Homo sapiens: one gene and its partners. The protein of the gene in region 1 interacts with the protein of each later gene in a pairwise test. Each region holds a gene or a part of one and is shown on either strand. Other genes may lie near its edges.

Evidence for each region.
Region 2: the proteins of STX5 (region 1) and IMMT interact in a two-hybrid assay, tested with the Homo sapiens proteins (one large-scale study listed by BioGRID and IntAct).
Region 3: the proteins of STX5 (region 1) and MTUS1 interact in binary tests that used the Homo sapiens proteins (3 or more experiments, as listed by UniProt).
Region 4: the proteins of STX5 (region 1) and TACC1 interact in binary tests that used the Homo sapiens proteins (3 or more experiments, as listed by UniProt).

What each region holds. Positions count from the first base shown.
Region 1 is NC_000011.10:62,810,279-62,816,059, reverse strand, and holds part of STX5 (syntaxin-5), read left to right. Parts: intron 1-5,781. UniProt on the Homo sapiens protein: Mediates endoplasmic reticulum to Golgi transport.
Region 2 is NC_000002.12:86,146,297-86,152,077, reverse strand, and holds part of IMMT (MICOS complex subunit MIC60), read left to right. Parts: intron 1-557; coding exon 558-781; intron 782-4,244; coding exon 4,245-4,376; intron 4,377-5,781. UniProt on the Homo sapiens protein: Component of the MICOS complex, a large protein complex of the mitochondrial inner membrane that plays crucial roles in the maintenance of crista junctions, inner membrane architecture, and formation of contact sites to the outer membrane.
Region 3 is NC_000008.11:17,748,200-17,753,980, reverse strand, and holds part of MTUS1 (microtubule-associated tumor suppressor 1), read left to right. Parts: coding exon 1-264; intron 265-5,781. UniProt on the Homo sapiens protein: Cooperates with AGTR2 to inhibit ERK2 activation and cell proliferation. May be required for AGTR2 cell surface expression. Together with PTPN6, induces UBE2V2 expression upon angiotensin-II stimulation.
Region 4 is NC_000008.11:38,845,104-38,850,884, forward strand, and holds part of TACC1 (transforming acidic coiled-coil-containing protein 1), read left to right. Parts: intron 1-1,595; coding exon 1,596-1,716; intron 1,717-2,851; coding exon 2,852-2,920; 3' UTR 2,921-5,781. UniProt on the Homo sapiens protein: Involved in transcription regulation induced by nuclear receptors, including in T3 thyroid hormone and all-trans retinoic acid pathways. Might promote the nuclear localization of the receptors.

The DNA of each region.
Region 1 (5,781 bases):
TTCAGCAGGACATATATTAAAATTTGAATAATACAGAGGTTAGCATGGCCTCTGCACATGGATGGCACAAATTTGTGAAGCTTTCTGTATTTTTTATTACCTGGGTGATGAGATAATATGTATACCAAGCCCCAAGACACGCAATTTATTTATAGAACCAACCTACACATGTACCCCTGAAACTAGAATAAAATTTAAAAATTAAATAAAAAAATAAAAACCAGACTGGGCGCGGTGGCTCACACCTGTAATCCTAGCACTTCGGGAGGCCAAAGCGGGCGGATCACCTGAGGTCAGGAGTTTGAGACCAGCCTGGCCAACATGGAGAAACCCCATCTCTACTAAAAATACAAAAATCAGCTGGGCATAGTGGTGCATGCCTGTGGTCCCAGCTACTTGGGAGGCTGAGGCAGGAGCAGTGCTTGAACCTGGGAGGCAGAGGTTGCAGTGAGCCGAGATTGTGCCACTGCACTCCAGCCTGGGCGACAGAGCGAGACTCTGTCTCAAAAAATAAAAAAAAAAAAACCACGCCGTTATCCTATCTATGAAAATTAGCGATTTCCTAATATTATGTATTATTCAGTGAGTGTCACAACAGAGTGATACTCTGTCTCAAAAAATAAAAACCACACCCAGTTATGTCTGTGAAAATTAATGATTTCCTAATATTATGTATTATCCAGTGAGTGTTACGACAGAGCGATACTCTGTCCTAAAAAATAAAAAATAAATAAAATAAAAACCACACCCGGTTGGCTGGGCATGGTGGCTCATGCCTGTAATCCCAGTACTTTGGGAGGCCAAGGCGGGCGGATCACAAGCTCAAGAGATCAAGACCATCTTGGCCAACATGGTGAAACCCCATCTCTACTGAAAACAGAAAAATTAACTGGGCGTGGTGCTGCGTGCCTGTAGTCCCAGCTACTCGGGAGGCTGAGGCAGGAGAATCGCTTGAACCTGGGAGGTGTAGGTTTCAGTGAGCCGAGATCGTACCACTGCACTGCAGCCTGGCAAGAGAGCAAGACTCCATCTCAAAAAAAAAAAAGACACCCAGTTATCCTATCTGTTAGAATTAACTATTTCCTAATATGTGATATCCAGTGAGGGTTTACATTTTCCCAGTTGTCCCCAAACTGTTTAATAGCTTTTTAAATATTAAATCAGAAAGCCAGGCATAGTGGCTCACACCTGTAATCCCAGCACTCTGGGAGGCCGAGGCAGGCGGATCACCTGAGGTCGGGAGCTGGAGACCAGCCTGACCAACATGGAGCAACCCCGTTTCTACTAAAAACACAAAATTTGCTGAGCGTGGTGGCGCATGCAGGAAAATCACCTGAACCCGGGAGGCAGCGGTTGCGGTGAGCCAAGATTGCGCCATTACACTCCAGCCTGGGCAACGAGCGAAACTCCATCTCAAAAAAAAAAAAAAAATTAGCTGAGCGTGGTGGCACCTGCCTGTAATCCCAACTATTTGGCATGCTGAGGCAGGAGAATCTCTTGAACCTGGGAGGCGGAAGTTGGGTGAGCCGAGATCACGCCGTTGCACTCCAGCCTGGGCAACAGAGTGAGACTCTTATCTAAAAAAAAAAAAAGGAAGAGTCCCGGGTGCGGTGGCTCACACCTGTAATCCCAGCACTTTGGGAGGCAGAAGTGGGTGGATCACCTAAGGTCGGGAGTTCGAGACCAGGCTGATCAACATGGTGAAACCCATCTCTGCCAAAAATACAAAATTAGGGCGTGGTGGTGCATGCCTGTAATGCTAGCTACTTGGGAGGCTGAGGCACTAAAATCACTTGAACCCAGGAGGTGGAGGTTGCAATGAGCCAAGGTTGTGCCATTGCACTTCATCCTGAGCAACAAGAGCGAAACTCCATCTCAAGTAAATTAATTAAATTCTTCCTCTTTTCTGAGCATCGCTATAGGCTTTAATTATAGGTTTTAATGTATTGGTTGTCTTATTATTAGTTAGGGCAATGATTATTGTGAGTGCTCAAGTTGTTCCAAATATGTCTGGTGGGAGCCTAGAGGGTTTAAAAGGCTGAGAGAAAATAAAGGTATGTTAGCATGCCAATGGAAATGATGCAACGGATAAATTTAAAAATGATAATATAGGAGAAAGATGGGAGAATTCTTGAAATGATGTCCTTGAGAAGGTGAAAGGAAGTGGGCTCCGGGGCATAAATCAAGGCTTGGCTCTAAGAGGAGCTGGCGATAGGTGGGAAGACAGAGGCTATTGTAGCAATGCTCGGGGTGGAGCGGCATTTATCTTCAGACCACTTCAGTCTTCTCAGCTCATTAAGAAGAAAAGCCAGTAGAGGAGAGGAGGTGTAGGAGGTTTTAGGAATCCACTCCTGCCCACTTGATCTTATCCCTTTAGCAGGGTCCAACCCTGATTGATCTTTATTCCCCACGGTATCTAGCAGAGTGCTTTTACTCTACGTTGTTGATCATGTGAAACTGAGTGAACACCTACATTTGTATAAAGCCGGTTTCTGAACATCAATCCACTAAGCAGCCTCACACATTTAACTGGCCAAGGTAAAAGAAAACACTTGGAGATTCTGATTCGAGAGATGTGAATGGAGTGGGCTTTTCAGGGAGCTTCATTTTTACAAATTCCATAGGGGGTTCTGATGAGCATCCAGGTTTGGGAACTACTGATTAAAAGAAAGTTTGTTTATTCAACTACTATATGTTGAGCACCAGCCATTTATAAGGTACCGTGAGTACAGCTGTCTTGATCCTAGAGTCAGGAGAATTGACTGATTTTTTTTGTTGTTGTTTGTTTGAGACAGTCTCACTCTGTCACCCAGGCTGCAGTGCAGTGGCATTATCTTGGCTCACTGCAACCCCTTCCTCCCAGGTTCAAGTGATTCTCCTGCCTCAGCCTCCCGAGTAGCTGGGATTACAGGCATGCACCACCATGCCTGGCTAATAATTGACTGATTTTTTTTTTTTTTTTTTTTGAGACGGAGTCTCACTCTGCCACCCAGGCTGGAGTGCAGTGGCAACCTCCGCCTCCTGGGTTCAAATGATTCTTCTGCCTCAGCCTCCCAAGTAGCTGGGACTACAGGCACGAGCCACCATGTCCGGATAATTTTTGTATTTTTAGTAGAGATGGGGTGTCACCATATTGGCCAGGCTGGTCTTGAACTCCTAGACCTCGTGATCCGCCCACCTCGGCCTCCCAAAGTGCTGGGATTACAGGCGTGAGCCACCGCACCCGGCCTAATTGATTTTTATCTATTTCAGCTGAGACCTAGGGAACCCCTTGCAGAATTATGCCATAAACACCATAGCTCCCTGAGCTATGTTGTATTTTGAATATTAGAATATTAAGTCTGGGCGTGGTGGCTCACGCCTGTAATCTCAGCTCTTTGGGAGGCGAGACAGGCGAATCACGAGGTCAGGAGATCGAGACCATCCTGGCTAACACGGTGAAACCCCATCTCTACTAAAAAAAATACAAAAAAATTAGCCGGGTGTGGTGACCGGCGCCTGTAGTCCCAGCTACTAGGGAGGCTGAGGCAGGAGAATGGCGTGAACCCAGGAGGCGGAGCTTGCAGTGAGCCCAGATCACGCCACACGCCACTGCACTCCAACCTGGGCAACAGAGTGAGACACCGTTTCCAAAAAAAAGAATATTATAGAGTCAGTGAAACAGAATTATAAAAGATATGGAGGGCCAGGCGCAGTGGCTCATGCCTGTAATCCCAGCACTTTGGGAGGCCGAGGCGGGCGGACCACCTGAGGTCCAGAGTTTGAAACCAGCCTGACCAACATGGAGAAACCCTGTCTCTACTAAAAATACAAAATTAGCCAGGCATGGTGGCGCATGCCTGTAATCCCAGCTACTCTGGAGGCTGAGGCAGGAGAATGGTTTGAACCCGGGAGGCGGAGGTTGCTGTGAGCTGAGATCGCACCATTGCACTCCAGCCTGGGCAACAAGAGCAAAACTCCATCTCAAAAAAAAAAAAAAAAAAAAAGGTATTTGAGTTCTTTCCTCAATCCATATACATCTAAAATAAAGTTATAGCATATAGGCAACTTTACATTCTAGTCTTCCTTGAAACAGTGTCATAAGTATTTTTCACTGTTAGCATGTGTTTGCTCATTGGTTTAGCAAACATTTGTTGCTGCTGTGAGCTAATCCTGCTGGGTCTGAGGATAAAAGGGTGAAAGACCATTCTGGTCCTCCTGGAGCTCACTAGTAGGAGAGACATAAGTTGACAGTGACAGCTCAGTATGATAGGGCAAGAAGAGAAGGGGATGAGGCTGGGTGTGGTGGCTCATCCCTGTAATCCTAGCACTTTGGGAGGCCGAGGCAGATTACTTGAGGCCAGCAGTTCAAGAAAGCCTGTGCAACACAGAGACCCCGTGTCTATTAAAAAAAAAAAAAAAGGGATGAGAGAACTCAGAGTAGGTACTGCTCCTAGATGGGGCCAAGGGGCCTTCCCAGAAGTGATACCAAGCTAAGACTTGGAGGGAATGCCAGCCCAAAAAGGGGAAAGGAGAAGCTGTTCCATGTGAGGAAAAAACAGCACAGAAATGAGAAAGAACTTGGTAGATACAGGAGTGCAGAATTATTCAGCATGGCTGGGGGAGTGGTGAGAGGCAAGGCCAGGTCACAGATAACCTGTGTGTCACAGCAAGAAATTTGGTGTCAGGGAGAGAACATAAGAAGAAGCAAGCGGATTGATGCTGGGTGAGAATTAGGTTTGTTCTGGGTGTGCTGAGTGCCTCAGACTTCATGGGACAGCTAAATGACAGAGTTTAGTAGGCATTTCATGTTCTGATGTTTGGAAGAGAAGGCAGTGCTAGAGGTAAGGACTTAGGACAGTGGCCTCTTGGTGAAACCCTGGGCATAGACCACCCAGAGACTGGGTAAAGTGAAAAAAAGGTCAGGACAGATCCCCCATGGAGTCAGGGGGTATGTAGAGAAGGGAAGAATCTGGCCAGACTGAGGAGGAAGGTTGAGGAAGATGAGAGAAGAAAGCAGAGAGAGAAATGTGTCCTTAGAACTTGGGATAGAAGAATTTTAAGGAGTGGTTATTTCTCCTTGCTCCTGAGAAAGAAAGTTCGAGGTAAGGATGTGTTTGAGTCAGGAGGGGCTTGAATTAATTGGATCAGTGCCAGTATTTTCAGTGGAATGGCTCAGTAGCAATTTTACAGTATGTTGGAGCATAAAAGAAATAAGGAAGTAGAATTTATGGGCAACCATATACAAAATAAATTTATGAAAGGATGCCATCTTTAAAATAGGTGTAGACATTCATATGCTTCCTCCCTGCATGCCAGTGGATCTGGGTTTCAGCACTTGCTCTAGAAACCACTGATTAAGTCTGAAGTTTTTTGGGATGCAGATTCTTGGGCCCCAACCTAGAATTTCTGGTTGTGACACTTGAGAATTTTTATATTTGAGAATTCAACAGGTGATTCTTATTTTTCCTAAGGTGTGAAAACCACTGATCTAATGTTGCTCAGTCATTTTCCTTTTCACCTCATAAAATATTCAAACTACAGAAAAGTTGGGAGGATAGCACAATAAACACTCATATTCCCTTCACCTGTAGTCACTAACTTTTTTTGTTTTCATATTTGTTTTTTTCTTTTCTTTTGAGACAAGGTGACACTCTGTCACTCAGGCTATAGTGCAGTAGCGCAATAATGGCTCACTGCAGCCTCAAACTCCTGGGCACAAGTGATCCCCCCACCTCAGCCTCCCCAGTAGCTGGGATAACAGGTACATGCCACCATGTCCAGCTAATTTTTAAATTTTTT
Region 2 (5,781 bases), on another chromosome or scaffold:
CTAGATGAGAATCTTTGGGTGTATTTTAAAAAGCTTTGCAGTGATTCTGATGGACAGCTCTGGTTGCTGTGTTGGGATTTAATCTAGATCATATGTGTTTAAGAAAAGTAAAAAAACTTATTAAGGAAAAGTCTGAGAGAATTTGAATTTGATTTTTAGTTTTAGCAGAAAAGAATCTTCAATTGGATGCCTGTTATAACTAATCAGAGTTATGCCTGAAAGAAAATATAGAAGTGATTGTATATATAAGTTTTGTCTTTAAAGGCAAAGTTACAGTAAATGAGAAAGTCCATTTATAATTAGTTCAGATTAAAAGAGGGTTCCTGGAAAACAACTGATTATCTGAAGGCCTACCTGAATTTTGCCAGGGGTTGAAAATACCTTATTGGACACTAGCCAATTTCTGATTGAACTGGGGAATCTAAATCTCTTTTCATGTTAGCTAAGTTTTACTTTCGTTTACTGCTCTTAAATTATAATCAGTTGATGCAGATTACCTTGTAATGAGGTATAATTTCAGTGACATCATTAATATTTTAACATGCTCTTTTGCTTAGCTGACAAGCTCTCTACTGATGATCTGAACTCCCTCATTGCTCATGCACATCGTCGTATTGATCAGCTGAACAGAGAGCTGGCAGAACAGAAGGCCACCGAAAAGCAGCACATCACGTTAGCCTTGGAGAAACAAAAGCTGGAAGAAAAGCGGGCATTTGACTCTGCAGTAGCAAAAGCATTAGAACATCACAGAAGTGAAATACAGGCTGAACAGGACAGAAAGGTAAGAGAAATGAGAATTGTTGCCTAACATTTAAAGTGACTCTAACTTGATTGTTTACTTGTAGAAATAATACTGGCTCAGCCGGGTGCAGTGGTTCATGCCTGTAATCGCGGCACTTTGGGAGGCCAAGGTGGGTGGATCCCTTGTGGTCAGGAGTTCGAGACCAGCCTGGCCAATATGGCGAAACCCCCGTCTCTTCTAAAAATACAAAAATTAGCTGGGTGTGGTGGCTCGCACCTGTAATCCCAGCTACTCGGAAGGCTGAGGCAGGAGAACCACTTGAACCAGGGAGGCAGAGGTTGCAGTGAGCTAAGATCGTGCCACTGCATTCCAGCTTGGGCGATGGAGCAAGACTGTCTCAAAAAAAAAAAAAAAATACTGACAGTCATTGGCTTTAGGATATTGAATATAAGTCATGCCAGCTGACCTTTAGAATGGAGCTTAGGTCCTCATTCCCCTCATCAGAACTTCTAGGAAAGGAGTGATCGAGCAGAGTTCCTTTATGTTGAGCAGATGCAGAAGTGTAAGAAAGGAATAAGCTACTGGTATCCAGGATTATCTAGCTCATCTTTCCAGTGGAGCTGAGCCTCTGTCCCTTAAAGCAGTGCTGAACGAATCTTTGTTGGAGTCTGAGTATATTTTTCTCTGCTATTGTTGTTAAGTGGTTGGTGGTTAAAAAACAGGTGAAATAGCTTCTTTAGCCCTCTGTCTGGGCACACCATTTATTAAATAGGTGTCCACAGGCTGATTTGGGAACCTAACTACTCATCCCACCTTTGTGTCTTCTTAGCAGTACTACTGGCCACTCCTTCCTTCTTGAAACTATTTCTTCCCTAGGCTCCCTGACACCATACTCTTCTGGCCTTTCTCTTACCTTGCTGGCCACTCCTTAACCTCCTTTTCTGCTCAGCCTCTCAAATGGTGGCATACCTGGCATTAGTTCTGAAACGTTTTCTCCATCTGAACTGTCTCTAAGTGTTCTTGTTGAGTCCCGTGACTTGGAAGTTTAAATACCATCTATACCTGATAAATGTCTATCTCCAGCTCTGACCTCTGCCTTGGCTTCAGGTTCCTATCCAGCAGCCTACCTGGTATCTCCAGCTTGATTTTCAGTAGTCATTTCATGCTTATCATGCTCCAAACAGATTTATTTATTCTCTCCAACCTGTCTTCCAGCCCCTCAACTTGTTTCTCTCTAAATAAACTGAGTTGAACAATCTGCTCAGCTATTCCAGCCCAAATCATGCTTTGTTGTTCCTCCATCAACTCATATTCAGTTGCCCCACAGATCCTACCAGTTTTGCATCCAACATAAATCCCAAATCTGTCCACTCCATTACTACCACCTTAGCCCAAGCTGTCATCTTAACAGCTTCCACTATTTTTTCTTTTTCTTTCTTTTTTTTTTTTTTTTTTTGAGACAGAGTCTGTCTTTGTGGCCCAGGGTAGAGTGCAGTAGTGCAATCTTGGCTCATTGCAACCTCTGCCTCCCAGGTTCAAGTGATTCTTGTGCCTCTCAGCCTCCTGAGTAGCTAGACTTACAGGTGCATGCCACCACATGTGGCTAATTTTTGTATTTTTAGTAGAGACGGGGTTTTGCCATGTTGGCCAGGCTGGTCTCGAACTCCTGACCTCAAGTGATCCACCTGCCTTGGCCTCCCACGGCGCCAGAATTACAGGCATGAGGTACCATGCCCGGCCTTCCCCAAGGAATTTAAACACCAAAGTGCTGGGATTACAGGTGTGAGCCACCATGCCCAGCCAATTTGCCCTTTCTTCATACCCTTCTTTCTGTGTCTATTTACGCAGGCAAATAAAACATAGTCGAATCAGACACTACACTGCTGGAAATCCTCCATGGACTACCCATTTCATTTAATATAATTCCAAATTCTTAACCAGTACCCAAAAGGCTTCTTGATCACTGCATGCCATGAGCCATTTCACTGCTCCAGGCACCCTGGTATTTTTTGTCTGTACCTTGACTATATCTTTTGTCTTGGGACCTTTATGTTTTCTCTGCCTAGTACATTGTTCTATCCTCTCTGTTTAAACCTTGAGCTCTAAGCTTAAGTTTTAAGCCTAGATGTCACTTTGTTAGCAAGACTGAGATTTCCTATCCCTTCAGTCCAAAGTAGAGTCTCTGTATTACTTTCTGTTATGTTGCCCTGTTTATTTTAAATGTAAGGTGGGGGAAAAGGAGGTTGAAGGGGTGTTGATGCTTCACAACAGGTCCTTGCCTGCTCAGTCATATGTAGAAATATGTATCACAATCTCAGATGTCTTTTTTGTTTACTGTCTGCTGCCTCCATTGAGATATACACTGTGAGAGCAAGAAGTTCGTCTGCCCTAAGCACCATTGGATCCGTACAGATAGTAGGCACTGCCTGGCACACAGGGCTAGTAGCACTTCATAAATACTTATGCACTGACTGAATGGATTCATTGATTTATTATATTGTTTCTGAGAAAAAATAAGTTCTGGATTTCAGGTAATCAGTGTTAAGTAATTTGTAAAGTGACCTATGGCTATTTGTTAGGCAAGGTATATTTTTTGGTTTTTTTTGGCCCATGTTGAATTTAAATTCATTTAAAAATAAGCAGTTTTCTTTGTTTAGAAGTCTATGTCAAGTCTATGTCAATAACTACCAGATACTTACTAATTTTCTTTTCTTTTTTCTTTTTGAGATGGAGTCTTGCTCTGTCGCCCAGGCTGGAGTGCAGCAGCGCAATCTTGGCTCACGGCAAGCTCTGCCTCCTCGGTTCACGCCATTCTCCTGCCTCAGCCTCCCGAGTAGCTGGGACTACAGGCACCCGCCACCACACCCGGCTAATTTTTTTTTTGTATTTTTAGTAGAGATGGGGTTTCACCATTTTAGTCAGGATAGTCTCAATCTCCTGACCTCATGAGCCACCTGCCTCAGCCTCCCAAAGTGCTGGGATTACAGGTGTGAGCCACCACGCCCGGCCAACTAATTTTCTTAATGATTCTTCAAAGTAGGCATTATTACTCACAAATGAGAAAGTGGAGATTTGAGAAGATAAATCATTTCCCCAAGGTCACACAGATGGTTGTAGTAAAGCTACGCTTGATTCCAAGTATATAGTTACTTTTTTTCATATCCTGGATTTAGTTATTTCTCAGAGGAGCATGTGATTCAGGAAATGGCAGTGTTTTATATGAGAGGCAGCCTGGTGATGTGGAAAAACCACAAGTTTGGGGGTGAGAGAGACCTTTGTTTGAAATCTGGTTTTTGCCACAGCTGTGTGATCTTGTTTGAATCACCTTCCAGGGTTTAGTTTTCCGTTTCACATGAGAAGTAGAAGTGTACACATGCCTGGCACATTAGAGGCGTTCAGGATATGGAAGCTGCTGTTGTCATGGTTGATAGTGGTCTTTCTGTTTTCCTAAAAGTATATGTGGAGAATTGAAAACTAATAACTACTATGTTTGGTTTCACAGATAGAAGAAGTCAGAGATGCCATGGAAAATGAAATGAGAACCCAGCTTCGCCGACAGGCAGCTGCCCACACTGATCACTTGCGAGATGTCCTTAGGGTACAAGAACAGGAATTGAAGTCTGAATTTGAGCAGGTGAGGACCTGGACTCCCTTCAGCCACACCCCTCTTCCTGACAGGATTAAGAGACTCTCCTTTCCTTTTAATGTACTCTGAGGATGTCGAAGATTTGGAAATCTCCTTGTATGTCTACAAAACTGCTTCTTTTTACATAATGGTGTACCTGTGTGTTCATGATCAGATGTGTTTTTAAAATATATATTCTAGTCATTTGGAATCTTCAGAGCTTTAAGGAGAGTTGGTAAAGGGGATTTCAGGAATGCAGACAGTAATATTTGACATGTGTATCTTCCTCCTATAGATGGCATGGTACTGCTTAGATTTTTATAACTGAGGTAATTTCCCAGAGAAGTTTTGAAATCCCAGTAAATTATCAGGATGCCTGTAATCATAGTTTCTATTCAAGAAATCATTTACAGTAATATTAACTTGTTACTTTGTCTTGCAAGAAGATATTGAGGTTTTCTAAGTAAAATCTTCCAGAGAATCGCGATGTATGTCAGTATGAAAAGGTATTTTAAATTCTATTTGGATATTTTTCTGAGAAAAATTAATGTATAAGCTCTTAAATACAAGATATTAGAATATAATTTAATCTAATTATTATGTTTAGGTTTGCAGTACAGATAATTTACTTTCTAAAGCTGACAATTTGTGGCTGAGCACAGTGGCTAACACCTATAATCCCAGCAATTTGGGAGGCTGAGGCGGGTGGATCGCTTGAGGACAAGAGTTCAAGACCAGCCTGCCCAACATGGCGAAACCCTGTCTCTATTAAAAATACAAAAATTACCTGGGCATGGTGGTGCATGCATGTAATCCCAGCCACTCCGGAGGCTGAGGCATGAGAATCGTTTGAATCTGGGAGGTGGAGGTTGCAGTGAGCTGAGGTTGTGCCACTGCACTCCAGCCTGGATGACAGAGCAAGATTCTGTCTCAAAAATAAAATACAGTTGGCAGTTTGTTTCTGACTTTAACAGCCTTCTCTCTTCTCTTGGTATGCCTCCTCTAATATTAGGTTCCATCAGTAAACCTGTAAAGAATTATATACATCGGCCGGGCACGGTGGCTCACGCCTGTAATCCCAGCACTTTGGGAGGCCGAGGTGGGCGGATCACGAGGTTAAGAGATCGAGACCATCCTGGCCAACATGGTGAAACCCATCTCTACTAAAAATACAATAATTGGCATGGTGATGCATGCCTGTAATCCCAGCTACTTGGGAGGCTGAGGCAGGAGAATCACTTGAATCTGGGAGGCGGAGGTTGCAGTGAGCCAAGATTGTGCCACTGCACTCCAACCTGGCAATAAAGCAAGATTCCATCTCAAAAAAAAAAAAAATATATTATATACATCAAATATGAGTCAGGACATTTTTGAAACTTTACACAAAATGTAGGAATTTCGTGACAACTCTAAG
Region 3 (5,781 bases), on another chromosome or scaffold:
TCGAATCAGGAAGATGTTGACAAAGCCAGTTCTTCTAACTCAGCATGCGAGACCGGGTCCGTTTCTGCGTTGTTTCAGAAGATCAAAGGCATACTCCCTGTTAAAATGGAAAGTGCAGAATGTTTGGAAATGACCTATGTTCCCAACATTGATAGGATTAGCCCTGAAAAGAAGGGTGAAAAAGAAAATGGGACATCTATGGAAAAACAAGAGCTGAAACAAGAGATTATGAATGAGACTTTTGAATATGGTTCTCTGTTTTTGGTAAGTAATATATATATATTTTTTGCATGCTTCAGAGAACTGTGGAGAAAACTGAGATGTGTTAGCATTTAGTTATCTATTAGTCAATAATATTGCAGAACCAGGTGGGCAGATTTACATTTAGTTGTTAATTCATTGTCTTGTCAGTACTGGGGTGTTAATAGGTTTCAATACAACAAAACTGCATATGGAAAAAAAAATCCTCAATTTCAGTATTTTGTATCAAGTATCACCGTTCCTTTTAATAGTGTGCTGAAAAATGAAGTTACTTTAATATTTTAGTATAATTAGTAGTTTAAGTGCCTGATACAATCAGGTTATATTTTATTTTTCTGAAAAAGTTGGGTTGTCAACTTTAAAATGTATTGGACAGCATTTAAGAAAGGGCTTGGGAGTGCTGGTAAACATGTCAACATAAAAATAACTCCTGGACTCTTGCGGAGGAGGCAGCTCTGGGAAGTAGAGCCCTCTTGTATGAGCAAGAGTGTTCTTGATTTTTCCTCTGACCGGCCAATAATGATTTTTGGCAAGTAATTTTTCGAGACCCAAAGATGAAAGGATTGGACCTAGTGGATGTGTGAAGCCTCTTGCAGCCTTAATATATTAATTCCTGGTATATAAAATAAAATCTTTTACTTATGTATAGTGAAAAACCAGTATGTTTTCCATAGCGCCTGTCTAAAATATTTGGGGGGGACCTAGAGAGTGCTGTTTAAAGAATAAAGAATTCACATGCAGTGTAAAGGTGATTTTCCTTTAAACATGCATGTGTTTTTGAGAATAGTGTGTAGAAATTGGTTTTCTGGGTTTTAAAAACATTTGACAGGCCACTGTTGGTCGTTGGGCATGTGTCCTCAGCCCTATTTTTGGCAGTGGGGACTTAGGTGTATTTTCAGCCCCAGACAGGCTGTCCTTGGGTGCCTGTCCTCTGGGCCAGGAAGGGAGCTAAGTGCCAGCGGAGAAAGGCAGGTGTGACACAGACAGCCTGTCCCTTGGAGGGCTCGTGGCAAGAGGAATGAAGCACATAGAATAGCAAGTGCAGAAGGGCTGACTTAGGTGTGTCTTCAGGGTGCATGGGGACCACAAGGGAGGGAATTGTCAGGTCCGTTTAGAAGACAAGGTTAGGAAAGACCGAAGATATTCTAGATTCTCTAAAACATCAGTTTAGACATGTTTGGGCTTTAACAACCAGTCTTCTCTATTTGGAAGAAGGGTACACCACAGTGATTTCTAAACTAATGAGTTCATCCGTTGTTTCAAAACTCAGATTTAGTTTTTAAGTTATCTTGAAGTCAAACTTAGAAAACCGATATCATTTATAATTTTAATTTTTTTGCAAAATTAAATTACAACATACTCTTAATTCTAATCAACATTCTTAGTTTGGCATTTACAGATATACATAGAAACACGATGTTTATTCTCTTGATTTATGGGAGACTTTTTTTGGTGTGTCAGTCCCCAGCTACCAAAAACTCTATCATAAAGTTTCTTTTTCTTTAATGACATTTGTCTTGAATTTAAATTGGTTGTGTAATTTTGAAACTAAAAGTTTTCCTGATTTGTGCATTGAGTCTTAGGGTTATGTTGCCCCTGTGCAGCTTGAAAACCTGTTTTTCAGGCTCCCGATGTGGTACTGAGGTAAGGATAGAATCATCAGGTTGAAATGGATCCTAGTATGTCTTGGAGAAACAGCACTTTTCGCCTCAGGAATCTGGCTGTTAGGATTCATAATTAGATATGAAATACTTTGTAAGTCTTGAAAGATTGTCCCATATTCGCATATGCTTATCAACTGGCATAAGGGACTCTTTTTTCTTTTTTGCTTTCTTTTTTTTTTTTTTTTTTTTTTTTAAGGCAGAGTCTTGTTCTTGCTCTTTCGCCAGGCTGGAGTGCAGTGGCAAGATCTCGGCTCACTGCAACCTCCGCCTCCCAGGTTCAAGCAATTCTCCTGCCTCAGCCTCCCAGGTAGCTGGGACTACAGGCGTGCACCACCACATCCAGCTAATTTTTGTATTTTTAGTAGAGACGAGGTTTCACCATATTGTCCAGGATGGTCTTGATCTCTTGACCTCATGATCCACCTGCCTCGGCCTCCCAAAGTGCTGGGAATACAGGCGTGAGCCACTGCCCCCGGCCTACTCTTTTTTCACGATCATGTCTGAAGCACAGTGCTCTCTAATTTTGCTAGTTTACCTCTTGCACATTTCCATGTCTCTGGGAAGGAGGACTGGAAAGTGTCTGGGCAGACCCTCATAGGCCACTGGCTTTGCACTTACTGTAGAGAGCTGAATGAATTTGCTGCGTGTTTTCCTGAAACATGAATGTCGGTTGGTCACTTCAGCAGCACTCAAAGGCTCTTACTGCCCTGGATTGACGAAGAGACCATGCTGGAGGGATGTTAATTTTCTTTTTCTTTGAGATGGAGTCTCCTCTCTCACCCAGGATGGAGTGCAGTGGCGCGATCTCGGCTCACTGCAACCTCTGCCTCCCAGGTTCACGCATTTCTCCCAAGTAGCTGGGACTACAGGTGCACATGCCTGGCTAATTTTTTGTATTTTTATTAGAGATGGGGTTTCACCACGTTGGCCAGGCTGGTCTCGAACTCCTGACCTCAAGTGATCCGCCCACATTGGCCTCCCAAAGTGCTGGGATTACAGGCGTGAGCCATCGCGCCCGGTCGGATGTTAATTTTTACTGTTGCTTTGTTGGCCTTGGCCTGCCTTAGGCCTTGAGTTTACTGAATCCCTAGACTGCCTGCAACCTCACAGCTCATTGGTGGTCAGGGTGTATCTGAATCTTTAGAAAAGTTCTTATTTGGAAGAAGGAACTTGATTTTTATTTGAAACGGGGCTAGATGTAGCTCCTCACAACAGAGGTTATGTGTTCATGATAGTGTGTGAGATAAAGGGAGTGGAGACTTAACCTAAAAGGAAAGGAATTGATATTTATTCAGTGCTTGCTCTGGGTCAGGCACTTTGCTCAGGTGCCTTAGTTATATTATGCCATTTAATGGGCCCTGTAACGCTCAGGTGCTTTCCATACATTGTTATTTACTCTTCCCAATAACAACAGGGCAATTGTTGTCGACATTTTAATACTTCAGCGAGGTCACTTAAAACTCACACAGCTGGTAAATAGTAAAATTGGGATTCACACTCAGAGCCCTCACTTGAATCCTGGCCTTTTCTGCTCCATACACCATACGGTTTCAAAATTTTTGGAATGTTGGCTCTGAAAGGCAAAACAAGTGATTTGCTGAAGATTCACTTTTGTAAATTGATGAGCAGTTTGCCTTACTTTTTAAAAGAAGGTTTTCTCTGGGAGGTTAACTTTTGGGTTGCTTTTTAAAAGAAGATTTTTCTCTGGGAGATGAATTTAGCCAGCTTTAATTTAACCTAGCCAGAGACAGAAGATCTTTGTTAGTTTGTGTACAGTCACTTGCTTTTCTTGGCCAATTCTGTATTGTTCTCCAGTGCCAAAACATGACCTCCAGCTGTTCTCATGGGTGATTGGCCTGCTAAGTTATTGTTGAATTCACCTAATGTATGAATTCGACTGCCATCGGCATTGGGCTTTATGTGTATCTATCGGAAATTAACACTTGAGATTTATTAAAGAAAGAAGAGTGATGACAGGGAACATGCTGCTTTACAAGCACGGATTTTAGAGTAGTTTCAAATTGTAGCTCCACCATTTACTGGGCAAAGTGACCTCTGGCAGGTTACTAAGTCTCTATTGAGCTCAGTTGTTCTTTGTGTCAAAAAAAGGGTCAAACTCTGTAATATATTTGAAGAGATTTATTCTGAGCCAAACATGAGTGACCAGTGGCCCATGACACAGCCCTTAGGAGATCCTGAGAAGATGGGCCTAAGGTGATCGAGGTACAGCTTGCTTTTACACATTTTAGGGAGACATAAGACGTCAATCAGTACATGTAAGGTATACAGTGGTTCTGTCTAGAAAGGAGAGACAACTGGAAGTGGAGGCAGCTTCCAGGTCACAGGCAGATTTAAAGATTTTCTTTCTTTTTCTTTCTTTTTTTTTTTTTTTTTTTGAGACAGATTCTCTGTTGCCCAGGCTGGGGGTGCAGTGGTGTGATCTCTCGGCTCACTGCAGCCTCTGCCTCCCGGGTTCAAGTGATTCTCTTGCCTCAGCCTTTTGAGTAGCTGGGATTACAGGTGAGGACCACCACACCCAGCTAATTTTTTTGTATTTTTAGTAGAGACTGGCTTTCCTCATGTTGGCCAGGCCGGTCTCGAACTCCTGGCCTCATGTGATCTGCCCACCTCGGCTTCTCAAAGTGCTGGGATTACAGGTTTGAGCCACCACCCCCAGCCTAAAGATTTTCTAATTGGCAGTTGGTTCAAAGAGTTAAAGACCTGGAATCAACAAAAAGGAATGTCTGGGTTAAGATAAGGAGCTGTGGAAACCAAGGTTTTATCATACAGATGAAACCTTCAGGTAGCCGGCTTCAGGGGGAGTTGATTGTAAATGTTGCTTATCAGACTTAAAAGAGTCTGTTCTATCAGTCTTAAGGTCTTTGTTGATGTTAATGCTGGTCAGCTGTGCCTGAATTCCAACCCTTCGGAGAGTATAATTATGTCTGACTCCCCCTTCCTTTCATATCCTGAACTAGTTTTTCAGGTTAACCTTGGAATGCCCTTGGCCGAGAGAAGTGGTCCCTTCAGATGGTTGGGGGGCTTAGAATTTTATTTTTGCTTTACATTAATGTAAAGGGAGAATTGCAAATTGTAGTTTGGTGTTGGAATTCACACTGTGAGTAAGGCTCAGACTCCCATTTCCTCTATGTAGAATAGAAACATTTATTGGGTGCATACTATGTATTATACATATGGTGATGATTGTTAGGATGTAGGGAAAAAAGAGACCCTGTCTGAGTGCCTAGTGCAGTGGGTAATACTGTTGCAGGAGTTTTTCTCAACCCATTTGTAAAACTTGCGATGGGGGTGCCCCATTCAGCCCGCCATGCTCAACCTCTTGCGGGCAGGAGTGTGTGGGCAAGTGAGTACAGGATCCAGCCAGCCACTTTGAGCACCGGCAGGAGCATGCTGTGTGCAGGCCCCACAGTGGTGCCCAGGTGGTGGTGTCTGTGACCCTAAAGCCCCAGAGGGCATGCTACAGTGCTCTCTTGGCTCCACCATCCATGGACACCGGTGTGTCATCAGCTCAGTGGGCCCTTTGCCTCACTGTGTGGGGCAGCTGCCCTCCAGTAGCGAGGGCAAAGGGTCAGTGTGATAACCTTTTTTGGGTACCCAAAGTTGGTGGGTCCCAAGCTCTTGTCCACTGTCCAAGAAGAATTGGGTCACATGGACACCTGAAGGATGGTGGAGGCAGATAATTTTATTTAGCAATGAAAGTGGCTCTCAGCAGAGAGGGTAGCTGAAGACGGGACAGGACGGGCAGATAATCTTCCCTAAAGTCTGGCCATCTACACTTGGCTCTTCTCCAAAGCTAAGCCATCTCTCCTCCAAAGTCCAGCTGTCTGTCTGCCAT
Region 4 (5,781 bases), on another chromosome or scaffold:
TAGTAGAGACGGGGTTTCGCCATGTTGGGCAGGCTGGTCTCGAACTTCTGACCTCAAGTGATCCGCCCGCCTCGGTCTCCCAAAGTGCAGGATTACAGGCATGAACCACTGAGCCTGGCCTCCCAACTTGACTTTTTAACTAAAAGGTAATACATGCTTGTACATTTTGCTGCCTAAATTTCTATCTGTAGAAGCAGAAGTTCCCCTGTCCCCTTCCCACTCCCATAGTACTGTATTAGATTTCTTATGCATTCTTCTCCATAGGTTTTACAGATGCCTCTATATATTATACGTAGGTTTATTGTATATCCCTCTAGTCGTTTCTTTGTGTCTTTATAAATACTATGATTTTGAACTATAAAAAATATTTACAATATTGGAATCACATTAGACAAATTTCCTTTTTCCCTTAATAGCATATCCTGACCATTTTTTCATGTCAGAACATATAGCTGAATCTAATTCTTTTTATTAGGTCGTGGAACTATAGCATTTCTTTATTGATGGGCACTTAGTTACAAACTTTTTTACATTGAAGGTAACACTACAGCGAACATCCTGTGCACTCACTGTTATGCCAGGTGGGAGTATTTCTGTGAATACATAACTGAAAGTGGCATTGCTGCGTTGGAGGGCATGTACACTTTAAATTGCCCTGGTGACTACCACATTGCCCGCCACAAGGCAGCGCCAGTTTTCAGCCGCCCATTGGCACATGAGCCTGCCTGTCTCCTTGTATCTCGGCCCACACAGGACTGTCCTTGTTAATTTTTGCCAATTCAATCAATTTTCAAAGCTTATCATTTTAATTTACATGCCTCTGATTGCTAATGAGGCTTTAGCATCCTTTCATCAGTTTAATGGCTGTTCATCAACTGACATTTATGGTTTTTAAGAATGCCTTTCAGGCCGGGCGCGGTGGCTCACGCTTGTAATCCCAGCACTTTGGGAGGCCGAGGCGGGTGGATCACGAGGTCAGGAGATCGAGACCACGGTGAAACCCCGTCTCTACTAAAAATAAAAAAAAAAATTAGCCGGGCGTGGTGGCGGGCGCCTGTAGTCCCAGCTACTCGGAGAGGCTGAGGCAGGAGAATGGCGTGAACCCGGGAGGCGGAGCTTGCAGTGAGCCGAGACTGCGCCACTGTACTCCAGCCTGGGTGACAGAGCGAGACTCCATCTCAAAAAAAAAAAAAAAAAAAAAAAAAAAGAATGCCTTTCACATCTCATTAATAAACTCATTCCCTGTAGGCCCGTGTCTCACAGATGTCAGTGGTTAGTATCCCAACTCTAGCTGTGATCGTCTCCAAAATTATGCAGTCTGCTTTTGTACTGGTCTAAAAAAAAAAAAAAAATCTAAGACTGTTATAGAAACCATTTGCTAGTGAGATACAAATTTTGAAGTTGTCTGTAAATTGAATTTTTATAAATTAAAATGGAATTATTTAGGTCACCGATTTTTGTTTTTTTTCTCTCATGCAGTCAATTCTTTGAGGCCTGTGCCTCACAGATGTCAGTGGTTAGTATCCTGACTGGCTTTGACTAGTGGCTAATCATGTGCTTTTTGTCTCTTTATTACACCCAAACACCATAAACAGAGCCAATGAAGAGATTGCTCAGGTTCGAACAAAAGCAAAGGCTGAGAGTGCAGCTCTCCATGCTGGACTCCGCAAAGAGCAGATGAAGGTGGAGTCCCTGGAAAGGGCCCTGCAGCAGAAGGTACAGAAAGGGACCTGATCTGGGTGGCCACAGAGACGTTTGGTTTTCCTCCTCAGCAGTGACTCACTTAATGACAGATCTGGGTGAAAGAGGCCTTGGCTTTCTACTCAGACATTTCAGTCCAGCTCCTTTCTGAACTGATCCAGGTGGAAACAAACAAGTCAAACCATTAAATTTTCAAGCACATCATGTGGAAATCATCCACAGGCAGGGTGCAGAGAGGAAGTTGCATTTTAACTGAAGTTCAGAACAGCTTCCTAGTTGGGGTCATGAGACTGCCTTTCTTTCTTTCTTTGTTTTTTATGCAATATATTAATATGAAGCCATCTTCCCCCTTCATTGCTTTAGATCAGTGGTTTGCAGTTGGGGGCAGTTTTGCCCTCCAGGGGATGTTAGGTGTTAGGTAATGTCTGGAGATATATTTGTTTGGTTGTCACCACTGGGAGATGCTGCTGGTATCTAGTGCAGGAAGCCAGGGATGCTGTTAAACATCCTACAATGCACAGGACAGCCTCTGACAACACATTTACCCATCCTAAAACATCAGCAGGGCTGCTTTGAGAAACTGCTATAGATAAATGAAAACCAGGACTAGCAACAATCCCTGTTTCTCACTAAGCAATTTTTAGCTTTCCGTTTTTATATGTCTCCGGTGTATTTTCTTTACTGCATTTCCAATTATGTACTCATACCTGTGCCATCCATTCATCAAGAGCAGGAGTTTTTATCACAGGGTCTGTTAGCCCCTAGAACGGTGCTCCCTGGGAGATTCAGACTCCAGCATCCCTAGATATGCTAATGGATTGAGTGAGACCCAGATACTTATGTTTTTGACAAGTACCCCAGATAATTCCTCTGATAACAAGAAAATTGGGGAACTAAGAGATTCATGGACAAGTTTCAGAGGGCTGGTGACTGTCCTCACCCTTTACTCAATTTAAGCATGATTTTATGAGTACATTTTTTGAGGTGTGTAGCCTTTTTTTCTTTAAAGCATCTCTGATGTAGAAAAGTTAAAAATCACTGAATTAGGATGTCTAGGGTAGGGTAGATCCAGACTTGGGACTAGTTAACTCTATTTGCCTTTATTTCAGAATACAAAGTGGCCTGCATAATTATGTCATTTGTCTTTCAGAACCAAGAAATTGAAGAACTGACAAAAATCTGTGATGAGCTGATTGCAAAGCTGGGAAAGACTGACTGAGACACTCCCCCTGTTAGCTCAACAGATCTGCATTTGGCTGCTTCTCTTGTGACCACAATTATCTTGCCTTATCCAGGAATAATTGCCCCTTTGCAGAGAAAAAAAAAAACTTAAAAAAAGCACATGCCTACTGCTGCCTGTCCCGCTTTGCTGCCAATGCAACAGCCCTGGAAGAAACCCTAGAGGGTTGCATAGTCTAGAAAGGAGTGTGACCTGACAGTGCTGGAGCCTCCTAGTTTCCCCCTATGAAGGTTCCCTTAGGCTGCTGAGTTTGGGTTTGTGATTTATCTTTAGTTTGTTTTAAAGTCATCTTTACTTTCCCAAATGTGTTAAATTTGTAACTCCTCTTTGGGGTCTTCTCCACCACCTGTCTGATTTTTTTGTGATCTGTTTAATCTTTTAATTTTTTAGTATCAGTGGTTTTATTTAAGGAGACAGTTTGGCCTATTGTTACTTCCAATTTATAATCAAGAAGGGGCTCTGGATCCCCTTTTAAATTACACACACTCTCACACACATACATGTATGTTTATAGATGCTGCTGCTCTTTTCCCTGAAGCATAGTCAAGTAAGAACTGCTCTACAGAAGGACATATTTCCTTGGATGTGAGACCCTATTTTGAAATAGAGTCCTGACTCAGAACACCAACTTAAGAATTTGGGGGATTAAAGATGTGAAGACCACAGTCTTGGGTTTTCATATCTGGAGAAGACTATTTGCCATGACGTTTTGTTGCCCTGGTATTTGGACACTCCTCAGCTTTAATGGGTGTGGCCCCTTTAGGGTTAGTCCTCAGACTAATGATAGTGTCTGCTTTCTGCATGAACGGCAATATGGGACTCCCTCCAAGCTAGGGTTTGGCAAGTCTGCCCTAGAGTCATTTACTCTCCTCTGCCTCCATTTGTTAATACAGAATCAACATTTAGTCTTCATTATCTTTTTTTTTTTTTTTGAGACAGAGTTTCGATCTATTTTAAGTATGTGAAGAAAATCTACTTGTAAAAGGCTCAGATCTTAATTAAAAGGTAATTGTAGCACATTACCAATTATAAGGTGAAGAAATGTTTTTTTCCCAAGTGTGATGCATTGTTCTTCAGATGTTGAAAAGAAAGCAAAAAATACCTTCTAACTTAAGACAGAATTTTTAACAAAATGAGCAGTAAAAGTCACATGAACCACTCCAAAAATCAGTGCATTTTGCATATTTTTAAACAAAGACAGCTTGTTGAATACTGAGAAGAGGAGTGCAAGGAGAAGGTCTGTACTAACAAAGCCAAATTCCTCAAGCTCTTACTGGACTCAGTTCAGAGTGGTGGGCCATTAACCCCAACATGGAATTTTTCCATATAAATCTCAATGAATTCCCTTTCATTTGAATAGGCAAACCCAAATCCATGCAAGTGTTTTAAAGCACTGTCCTGTCTTAATCTTACATGCTGAAAGTCTTCATGGTGATATGCACTATATTCAGTATACGTATGTTTTCCTACTTCTCTTGTAAAACTGTTGCATGATCCAACTTCAGCAATGAATTGTGCCTAGTGGAGAACCTCTATAGATCTTAAAAAATGAATTATTCTTTAGCAGTGTATTACTCACATGGGTGCAATCTTTAGCCCCAGGGAGGTCAATAATGTCTTTTAAAGCCAGAAGTCACATTTTACCAATATGCATTTATCATAATTGGTGCTTAGGCTGTATATTCAAGCCTGTTGTCTTAACATTTTGTATAAAAAAGAACAACAGAAATTATCTGTCATTTGAGAAGTGGCTTGACAATCATTTGAGCTTTGAAAGCAGTCACTGTGGTGTAATATGAATGCTGTCCTAGTGGTCATAGTACCAAGGGCACGTGTCTCCCCTTGGTATAACTGATTTCCTTTTTAGTCCTCTACTGCTAAATAAGTTAATTTTGCATTTTGCAGAAAGAAACATTGATTGCTAAATCTTTTTGCTGCTGTGTTTTGGTGTTTTCATGTTTACTTGTTTTATATTGATCTGTTTTAAGTATGAGAGGCTTATAGTGCCCTCCATTGTAAATCCATAGTCATCTTTTTAAGCTTATTGTGTTTAAGAAAGTAGCTATGTGTTAAACAGAGGTGATGGCAGCCCTTCCCTAGCACACTGGTGGAAGAGACCCCTTAAGAACCTGACCCCAGTGAATGAAGCTGATGCACAGGGAGCACCAAAGGACCTTCGTTAAGTGATAATTGTCCTGGCCTCTCAGCCATGACCGTTATGAGGAAATATCCCCCATTCGAACTTAACAGATGCCTCCTCTCCAAAGAGAATTAAAATCGTAGCTTGTACAGATCAAGAGAATATACTGGGCAGAATGAAGTATGTTTGTTTATTTTTCTTTAAAAATAAAGGATTTTGGAACTCTGGAGAGTAAGAATATAGTATAGAGTTTGCCTCAACACATGTGAGGGCCAAATAACCTGCTAGCTAGGCAGTAATAAACTCTGTTACAGAAGAGAAAAAGGGCCGGGCACAGTGGCTTATTCCTGTAATCCCAACACTGTGGAAGGCCGAGGCAGGAGGATCACTTGAGTCCAGGAGTTTGAAACCTACCTAGGCAACATGGTGAAACCTTGTCTCTACCAAAATAAAAATTAGCTGGGCATGGTGGCACGTGCCTGTGGTCCCAGCTACTTGGGAGGCTGAGGTGGGAGCCTGGGAGGTCAAGGCTGCAGTGAGCCATGATCATGCCACTGCACTCCATCCTGGGTGACAGCAAGATCTTGTCTCAAAAAAAAAAAAAAAAAAAAAAAAACCAGGAGTGAAAAAGGAAAGTAGAAGGCAGCTGCTGGCCTAGATGTTGGTTTGGGAATATTAGGTGATCCTGTTGAGATTCTGG